Homo sapiens: one gene and its partners. The protein of the gene in region 1 purifies or fractionates together with the protein of each later gene. This does not show direct contact. Each region holds a gene or a part of one and is shown on either strand. Other genes may lie near its edges.

Region 1 (3,604 bases):
CGGCCTACCCATCATGTCCAGGATGCTCTGGTGGTTGGAGACGATGACACAGGGACGGGCCTCCTGCAGCCTGCGCGGGTCCCGCACCTCGAAGCGGAGCCCGTAAAAGTACTTGAAGCTTCGCACGAACCAGCCGATGATGCTGCAGGGGAGGCCACCATGAACACGGGTCCCACAGATCCCGCAGCCGAGGCTGGGGCGCGAAGGCCTGGGGGTGGGGTGTGGAGGAGGCTGGGGAGGGGCCCTCCTGGCACGGGGCAGGAGACCGGGAGACACAGGGGAGGGAGCCCCTGAAGCGGACAGAGTCCCGGGCCCGGCTCACCCACCTGGACGGCTGCCCTGCCTCCGTCTCCCCAGCAACAGAGGAAAACCCAGAGCCTCTGGAACTCGGATGCTAGGAGCATGGGAAGGCGCCCACTTCCAAATCCACATCCAGGGCCCACCCAGCCCTCATCCACCCCACAGGGGACCCAGCCGGAAAGGAACTGGCACTGGCTCTCACGTCCGCTATGAAGGACCCACGTCGGGGAGAGCAGCCTCTGCACCCCAGCAGAGGAAATGGGGCCCCACACACCCTGGGGAAGGTCACTGGCCCCTCAAGGCAGGGCCACATCAGGAAGAAAGTGTCGGCGCCAGTGGAGACCTCTGAAACGACCTCCGAAAGGTTCTTCCAGAAAAGAGCCGAGACCGAGACCCTCTCTCACCCCTACCCTACAGAATCAGGCCGGTTCCCTTTCCCCGTGAAGAGGCGGCGAGGGGCTCGGGGCTTGTCTGAGGTCACACCAGGAGCAGCAGCAGAGCCAGGGTCTGGGCCACCTGAGCCCTGGCCACAGCAGCCCCCACTCTGGCAGGGGCCCAGCCCACTGGGGGCTGCCCTTGGAGCACCTGCAAATGTGAGGTGGCCTTGTCCAAGCAGCCCGTCATGGTTGGGACCAGGGATGTCCAAGGGGTACCCGAAGACTCTGACCAGCTCCGAGCGTCCCAACCTCTGCCCTGCTGTGCTGCCAGGAAGCTCTGGGCACACCCCAGATAGGGCACCCCATCACAGGGCAGCCGGCGGGGATGGAGCCAGGAGGACGGAGCTCCACTCCGAAGCTCCAGCAGGGGTGGATGGCCGGGGCAAGGCTGTGCCAGCGCTGACTGGGGGGCTGCCAGTGCTGCTCCCCTCTCCATGCAGACTAGTGCCCCCCACCATTTGATCCCCCAGCAGTCCTAAGGGCCCCACACTTTCTACAGATGAGTCTGAGTAACTGCCCCAGGCCACAGAGCAGAGATTCAAAGCCGGGGCCTTCTCTCAAAGCCATACTGGTGGGGATTTTTGTTGTTTTAACAGGGTCTTGCTCTGTCACCCAGGCTCCCCTTGCTCTGTCTTGCTCTGTGACACAATGTGTCACATTGTGCAGTGTCACAATCTGGGCTCACTCCAGCCTCCACCTCCTGGGCTCCTCCCACCTCAGGCTCCTGACTAGCTGGGACCACAGACGTGAGCCACCACACCTCGCTAGTTTTTGTATTTTTGGTACAGATGGGCTTTCACCATCTCTGGCCAGGCTGGTCTCGAACTCCTAGGCTCAAACAACCTGCCGACCTCGGCCTCCCAAAGTGCTGGGCTTACAGGCCTGAGCCAACTCGCCCGGCCTTTAAAAAAAAATTGTGGTAAAATACACGTAACATAAAATGTATCTCCTTGGCCTTTTCCGGGTGCACAGTTCATGGGCGCTGGGCACATTCGGTGTCTAGCAGCCATCTCCTCCCTCTATCTCCAGAACTCTCCACCTTCTCTGGCTGACGTCTGTTCCCATGCGACACAAACCCCTGTCCCCTCCCCAGCCCTGGCACTCTGCCCTTCCATGTGTGAGCCCAGGCCTGCGGCAGCACCACCTCAGGCTGATGGGGCAATGCTCATGACCCCCTGTTGCAGATGGGGAAACTGAGTCAAGGGGGGCCTAATGGTTAATTCTGGTGATGAGTCCAGCCGTCCGTCCCTGGACTTGGAAGCCTGGGGCCTCCTCAGATCTGCCTTCCTCAGCCAACTCTAGATATCTCCTCTCCAGGCCGCGCCGGCCACCGTCCCCTCCCACCCAGAAGGCACACCCGGGCTGGTAGCACCCGCACACTCAGGGGAACTGCAGGGCTGTTTTGCCTCCACACTCATTTGCGCAATCCAGCTTCCCGGACCCCTGTGACGCTCCAAGAAGACGAGGAGGCAAAAGCCGGCAGTTCACCAACAGGAAACACAGAACTGTCTGGTGCTAGCAAGACGGCCGTGTCGCCAATCAAAGAAGCGCAAATGGAAACAAGAGACTGTCCTCATCCTTCCCCCTGGCACAGATTAAAACGCCTGATAACAGGAGGTGCCAGCCAGGGTGTTGGGAACAGGCCCAGCGGCTGGCAGGAGTGAGGAGTCGCACAGACAAGATACTTCTGTGGAGGGCAGGTTGGCAGGCCCGGCCAGAGCCCTGAGGAAACCTGGCCCCTCCCCTCTCAGAATCTTCCAGGAATTCGCCCGACGGCTGGAGTGAGAAGCCTGTGGTGCTGAAGTGTGCAGTGAATTAGGAAAACCTGAAAATGCTTAAATAGCCACCAGTAGAAAGAGGGAAAGTAAATTAGGGTCCATTTCACAGACAGCTGGGGCGCGGGGAAAGAACAGGACAGGTCCACACTCATCTCCTGTGAAGGACATGTGTATGATTTCTAGCAGCAGCCAAGACACACCTGCAATTCCAAAGCTAGCTGCCTGCAGGAGGCTCGGGCCACATCTGAAAGGGACATTGGTTCCCTCTGGTAGTGACATTGGCCAGTTCCATCTTTTATTTACTTTTTTATTTTTGAGACAGGGTCTCACTCTGTCACCCAGACTGGAGTGCAGTGGTGTGATCTCAGCTCACTGCAACCTCTGCCTCCCGGGTTCAAGCAATTCTCCTGCCTCAGCCTCCTGAGTAGCTGGGATTACAGGTGCCTGCCACCAGGCCTGGCTAGTTTTTGTATTTTTAGTAGAGACGGGGTTTCACCATGTTGGCCAGGCTGGTCTCGAACTCCTGACCTCAGGTGATCCTCCCACCTCGGCCTCCCAAAGTGCTGGGATTACAGGTGTGAGCCACCGCGCCCGGCCAGCTAGTTTCTTAGTGTTAACAACTGCATCTTGGTGATGTAAGATGTTAACAAGGGAGGAAACTGGTGAGGGCCACATGGGGTCCCCCGTAATATCTTTGCAACTTCTCTGTAAATCTGAAATTATTAAAAAATAAGATCTTCATTTATTTTTTATTTTTTTTGAGACGGAGTCTTGCTGTCACCTAGGCTGGAGTGCAGTGGCGAGATCTCAGCTCACTGCCATTTCCACCTCCCGGCAAGCGATTCTCCTGCCTCAGCCTAGCAAGTAGTTGGGACTACTGGTGTGCGCCACCACACCCGGCTAATTTTTGTATTTTTAGTAGAGACGGGGTTTCACCATGTCGGCCAGGCTGGTCTCAAACTCCTGACCTCATGATCCGCCCGCCTCGGCCTCCCAAAGTGCTGGGATGACAGGAAGGAGCCAGCGCGCCGAGCCCTCCTCTGTTTTGATTGTGGTATAACACGCACCACCTAAACAATATAATTGTAC
Region 2 (3,604 bases), on another chromosome or scaffold:
TTTTTTTTGTAGAGATAAGGTCTTGGTATATTGCCCAGGCTGGTCTTGAACTCCTGGGCTCAAGCAATCTGCCTTCTTCGATCTCCCAAAGTGCTGTGATTACAGGTGTGAGCCACTGTACCTGGCCAAGATAAGGCTTTTTACATTTAAAACATAGGGATAATATGAAACACTTTTATGGTATGTACCACGTGCCAGGCACTGTTCTAAGTGCTGTCCACATCGACTTATTTATTCTCAAAACAACTTTAAGGCCATGGGTACTATTATTATTCCCTTTTACAAAGGAGGAAACTGAGGCACAGAGGTTCAATGCTTCACTCAGGGTCACTGAGCAATAGGTGGCTATCTGGTGGCTGAGCTGGGATTTGAGCCCAGGCTAGCAGGCTCCAGAGTCCCTGCCCTTAATCATGGTGGCTACAAAGGATAATCTTTTAAATTAAATACATTCATCTTTATATAAAACTTTATAAAACATTTTCCAATTTGCCGTAAACTGTTTCAAATGTCTTAACAGACCAGTGTGTTTGGGGCATCACCATTCTAATCAATAAGACACAGGCTTTCCATTTTATTTCCTTCCCGCAGAGACGTCTCCTTCCAAGGCCATGACATCTAAAGCCCTGGTGAGGCTGAGCACCGCTCATGTGTAGATATAAAATGACCCTAACAGCATCCAGACAGCACCTCCGACCTCTTCAGCAGGAACTCACACAGCCCCTCTCCCCTTTCTTTTTTTTTTTTTTTTTTTTTTTTTTTTGAGACGGAGTCTCGCTCTGTCGCCCAGGCCGGACTGCGGACTGCAGTGGCGCAATCTCGGCTCACTGCAAGCTCCGCTTCCCGGGTTCACGCCATTCTCCTGCCTCAGCCTCCCGAGTAGCTGGGACTACAGGCGCCCGCCACCGCGCCCGGCTAATTTTTTGTATTTTTTTTTTTAGTAGAGACGGGGTTTCACCTTGTTAGCCAGGATGGTCTCGATCTCCTGACCTCATGATCCACCCGCCTCGGCCTCCCAAAGTGCTGGGATTACAGGCGTGAGCCACCGCGCCCGGCCCCCCTCTCCCCTTTCTAGTCCCACTCTGTGTAGCCACTTTCTCCTCCAACTTGTACATGAGGCCTCATGGAACCTGCTTTTTCTCCCTTTTGCAACTGGGCATGCCTTTACCTTGGGAGATGGAGCTTCAGCAGGGCTCCAAGTCCTGCTGCTGATGGAGGCATCATCTAACCCCATCTTCACACTGTGCACTGATGCGCGGCACCTCAACCTCCTCATCCTCTAGCCACCCCACAGTGTTGTCGTGCGAATGAATAATTTAATACTTGTGGAAATTAGCACAGAATAGCTCCTATTATCACTAGTATTATTAGTATAATAATACTCATCCTAAAACAGTCTTTTAGGACTGTTGCGCACTCTATTTTCACTTTGGTTTTACGTAAGAGATGTGGTTTCTTGGCTTGAGTATTTTACATCATATGTTTCTGGTTAGTTGTCTATTTAGCTAACTGTGATTCTCTGTTGGCTCACTATCCACAAAGAAGACATTTGCAACACAAGAGTTCTTCTCTAGGCTGGGCTTGGTGGCTCACGCCTGTAATCCCAGCACTTTGGGAGGCCAAGGCGGATAGATCACCGGAGGTCAGGAGTTCGAGGCCAGCCCAGCCAACAAGGTGAAACCCTGTCTCTACTAAAAATACAAAAAAATTAGCTGGGCAGGGGGTGCATTCCTGTAGTCCCAGCTACTCAGGAGGCTGAGGCAAGAGAATTGCTTATACCTGGGAGGCGGAGGTTGCAGTGAGCCGAGATCGTGCCACTGCATTCCAGCCTGGGTGACAAGAGTGAAACTCCTTCTCAAAAAAAAAAAAAAAAAAAAAAAAGAGTTCTTCCCTAACCCTAAATTCCATCCGAACTAAGACAGGTGGATAATCACCAGAAATCTCCACACGTACAGTTGTGGTTATTCCATTTCTATACTTTACTGTTGTGCAAAGCCCAAGTCCAGATCCAGTGTGGGCTCTGTGGAAAATCCCATCTGCATGGGGACCTGGGGCTCCCAACTGTCATTTGTCTTAACATGGGGAGGCTGTGATGGCTGACTGTCGGCCAGCCCTGCTTGCTGAGATAACCAGGCAAGGAAGGCCGTCTTCTACCTGAGCAGGGGATGGAAAGGAGACCCCCACCCACAGCACAGGGGCTGGCCCCAGAAAACGACGGGGCTGTCACCCCAGGGGCTGCTCACCGGTCTCCCCAAAGGGCAGGGCTTGCTCCCATGGCCTGAACTGTGCCGCACTCCCTCTGTGTGATGGTGGAAGAATCGTGGACCTGGTGTCAGGCTTGGGAACACTGGGTGCTGTGTGACTCTGGTCTCTCAACACTTTCTAAGGGCCTGCTTCCTCCTCTGAGTCAGGATTCGTCAGTCCTACCTCACAGGCCGGATGCGAACATGGAACAAGGCCACGTAGGTCGAGGGCCTGATGCACTAGAGGTGAGAGGAGCAGGTGTTCGGCCTCCCTGCTGCCCACCTGGCATTTATGCTTTGGAGTATGGCTGCTGCTCCTCACGGCAGAAGGTACCTGATAGTGGTGGTGTGAGTGTGTGTGTGTGTGTGTGTGTGTGAGAGAGAGAGAGTGTGTGCCTGTGACAGAGATGGCTCATTCATAGGAGCAGCCAGGCCCTGATGAAGTCCTTGCCTTTCTTTCTTTCTCTGCCCTGCTTCAGGGTTAGGAAGGAGGCCAGCAAGGGAGCTTGACCTAGGGGACCAGATGCCTGGGTGCTGTATCCCTGACGACTGTCTTTGAAGCCAGGTATCCTTCAAAATATGAGGTAAGCAAAGGATGCATGCAAGTAGAAAGGTCATGCTGCCGATGACAGAGATTACCGGTTGTGAGGAAAAACTCACCTGAAATTTATTAGTAGAGTTAAAAGGGATTTCAGCTACTTTGCGGTTTCTTTTTCTAATTTCCATCACATCACCCAAAATGACCTCTGAGAATTTTAAAAGAGCAGTTTCTGAGGCATCTCCAATCACAGCTTTCTGGGAATCAAAGAAGAAAAATATTTGCAGCACATATTTAATGAACCAACATGCCCTCAGCATAGGACCCAAAACACACCCTCCTGATCCCATTACCACCTAGCTGGAGAGACATTATCACGTGATCAGGGAGGGCCGCAAGACCGTGGTAAGCGTGTAAACAACAGTGCCACCTACTGGCATTAGGGATGTTTGGAGAAGCTGGACCTCTGCGAGGACTGAAGATTTCGTGGAAAAAAGCAGCTACGAACTAGATCTTGATAGATAGGTGGGTTACCGATACACAGAGAAGAAAGCCTTCCAGAAACCAGGATGCGGGTGCAGGGGCATGAGGGGCAGGCTCGTCCGTGAGTGTTCAAGGTACAAGCGGATGTGGAGGGTGTGGCAAGACCTGGAGGGCCCTGAAAGGTAGCCTGAGGTCTAGACTTGAGAAGCAGAAAACAGGGAAGTACGGAGAGATTTTGAGCAAAGTTAAGTGACTATAAAAGCACCATTAAGGGAAATTAGTGGCATTCGAGAAAGACCCCAGGAGGGATAAACCGGAATCAAAGAGGTTTAATTCCAATCAG
Region 3 (2,752 bases), on another chromosome or scaffold:
GCATACTCAGGATGATTCACTGCACAATTCTTTCCACTTCTCTGAAAACTTTCATGCTGGAAAGAATGTCCAACATGATTGTTTACAGATTGTCCCAAACAATGAATGCATGAATGAATGAATACGTAAGGCCTCAAAGATGGCAGAGGCCAGGTACAGTGGCTCACACCTGTAATCTCAGCACTTTGGGAGGCCAAGGTGGGCGGATCACCTGAGGTCATGAGTTTGAGACCAGCCTGGCCAACATGGCAAAATGTCGTCTGTACTAAAAATATAAAAATTAGCCAGACATGGTAGTGACCACCTGTAATCCCAGCTACTCGGGAGGCTGAGGCAGGAGAATTGCTTGAACCGGGAAGTGGAGGTTGCAGTGAGCCAAGATCACGCCATTGCACTCCAGCCTAGGTGACAGAGTGAGACTCTGTCAAAACAAACAAACAAACAAACAAACAAACAAAAAAGGGAGAAATCTGCTGACATACCTTCTTTATGCTGTCTATATATAGGAAAGTGGGCATGTATTACTTTCATAATAAAAGTTTCTTTTTAGAGACAAAAACGATATAAGAAGTCCATGGATAAAATCGGCATTTATTCAGAAGGCATGATGCCAGGAAGAAACTCCCCAAGTGGGAGACAATGGCTGGCCCCCCTGCAAGGGAAACAAGGCTTCAGCCCTTCCCTACTCCCAGACCTGCCGGGAAGGCTGGGAGCACAGTTCATGGAGGGTCTCTGGGGTGGGCCTGGGTGTCTGACCTGTCCCTCTGCCCACAGGTGAATGTGACCTGCGTCCTGAGGATCCCGAGTATCAGGAGAGCTGGCAGAGGAAGTCATGCAGAGGCAAAGCCAGGAGCCCCGACAGGGAGATCCCCAGTGTGTCAGAGATGCAGGTGGCCGCCATTGCAAACTCCCGGTGCTCATCACTGGTCTGGGAGGGCAGAGAGCAGGGGTGAGGCTTCAGTCCCAGACATCCCTGCCCTGGGTGTCCCTGGACAGGCCACCCCCAGCCCTTGCCCGGCCAATGCTGACCTCCAGGGCGATGTTGTGGAAGGTGTTCACGTAGGCTGCGCCTCCCAGGAGCCCCTCATACAGAATGATCAGGAAGACGAGGTAGATGCTTGGCAGAAAGCCGAACCACACGTCTGCCAGCAGGAACACCAGGTTGAGGCACTGTGAACAGGGGGAGAGGCTAAGCCTGGGACCAGGGCGGGGCAGGGAAGGAGAGGTGGCCTCCCCTCCAGGGGTCCCTGGTTTTAGGAGTTACTGGTGAAGGAGAGGGCTGCCAGGTCTAGATAAAATCTCAACACCAGCCCGGTGTGGTGGCTCACACCTGTAATCCCAGCACTTTGGGAGGCTGAGGTGGGCAGATCACCTGAGGTCAGGATTTCGAGACCAGCCTGGCCTGGTCTCTACTAAACATGGTAAAACCCCATCTCAACTAAAAATACAAAAATTATCTGGGTGTAGTGGTTCTGTAGTCCCAGCTACTTGGAAGGCTGAGGCAGGAGAATCACTTGAACCTGGGAGGCAGAGGCTGCAGTGAGCCAAGATCGCAGCACTGCACTCCAGCCTGGGCAACAGAGAGAGACTCCATCCCAAAAAAAAAAAAAAAAAATTCTCAACCTCAGCCTGGTGCAGTGGCTCATGCAGGTAATACCAGCACATTGGGAGACCAAGGTGGGATGATCACTTGAGGCCAGGAGTTCGAGACCAGCCTGGGCAACATAACAAAACTCCGTCTCTACAAAAAATTTAAAAATTAGTTGAGCATGGTGGCACGCACCTGCAGTCCCAGCTACTCGGGAGTCTGAGACAGGAGGATTGCTTGAACCTAGGAGGTGGAGGCTGCAGTAAGCTATGATTGTGCCACTGCACTCCAGCCTGGGTGACAGAGCAAGATCCTGTCTCATAAAAAAAAAAAAAAAAAAAAAAAAAAAAATGGAGGCTTCTTAAAGGAAGTGGGACCATCGAAACCAGGATTTCTCAATTGCAGCACTCTTGGCGTTTGGTGCTGGTTGTTCTGCATGGTGAGGGCTGTCCTGTATATGGCAGCGCATTTAGCAGGATCCCTGGCCTCTGCCCGCTAGATGCCCATAGCATCCCTCAGTTGTGACAACCAAAGCATGCCTGCAGACGTTGCCAAACATCCGCTGGGCAGCAAAATTGCCCCTATTGGAAAAACCGTTGGTTCACTATGGTAAAACAAGGTGGGAGTAGCCGGGCATCCTATTCAGCTGGGCTCGAACTCCTGGTCTCAAGCAGTCGCTGCCCCCCTGCCTCAGCCTCCCAAAGTGCTGGGATTATAGGCAGGAGCCACCGCACCTGGCCAGGAAGCCTCTTCGATCCCCACCCCAGGGTGTAGGTCCCACCTCTGTGCCCCAGTCTCTCAAGGAGGTGCCATCCTCCCAGCACTGACCACGCCACATTGCCTCTTGTGCAGTGTGTAGGCCTCCTCGTGGCGGTTCATACTTTTCGTATATGTAAGAATTGCCTGGGGATCTAGGTACAAATGCCCCAAGCGGGGCTTACCCTAGAGGTCCTAATTCATTAAATCTGAGGTAGACTTAAAGATGAGCATTAAAAAGGACACACCTCTAGCCAGGTGTGGTGGCTCACACCTGTAATCCCAGCACTTTGGAAGGCCAAGGCGGGTGGATCACCTGAGGTCAGGAGTTCAAGACCAGCCTGGCCAACATGGCGAAACCCCATCTCTACTAAAAAATACAAAAATTAGCCAGGTGTGGTGGCACGT

The links. Proteins that work in one complex are often made in the same cells at the same time.
Region 2: the proteins of AGPAT2 (region 1) and ATP12A purify together in Homo sapiens (affinity purification with mass spectrometry; one large-scale study listed by BioGRID and IntAct). This does not show direct contact.
Region 3: the proteins of AGPAT2 (region 1) and CLN3 purify together in Homo sapiens (affinity purification with mass spectrometry; one large-scale study listed by BioGRID and IntAct). This does not show direct contact.

The regions. Positions count from the first base shown.
Region 1 is NC_000009.12:136,677,415-136,681,018, forward strand, and holds part of AGPAT2 (1-acyl-sn-glycerol-3-phosphate acyltransferase beta), read right to left. Parts: intron 143-3,604; coding exon 9-142; intron 1-8. UniProt on the Homo sapiens protein: Converts 1-acyl-sn-glycerol-3-phosphate (lysophosphatidic acid or LPA) into 1,2-diacyl-sn-glycerol-3-phosphate (phosphatidic acid or PA) by incorporating an acyl moiety at the sn-2 position of the glycerol backbone.
Region 2 is NC_000013.11:24,693,875-24,697,478, reverse strand, and holds part of ATP12A (potassium-transporting ATPase alpha chain 2), read right to left. Parts: intron 3,036-3,604; coding exon 2,901-3,035; intron 1-2,900. UniProt on the Homo sapiens protein: The catalytic subunit of a H(+)/K(+) ATPase and/or Na(+)/K(+) ATPase pump which transports K(+) ions in exchange for Na(+) and/or H(+) ions across the apical membrane of epithelial cells.
Region 3 is NC_000016.10:28,476,708-28,479,459, forward strand, and holds the end of CLN3 (battenin), read right to left. Parts: intron 1,171-2,752; coding exon 1,030-1,170; intron 929-1,029; coding exon 809-928; 3' UTR 572-808; downstream 1-571.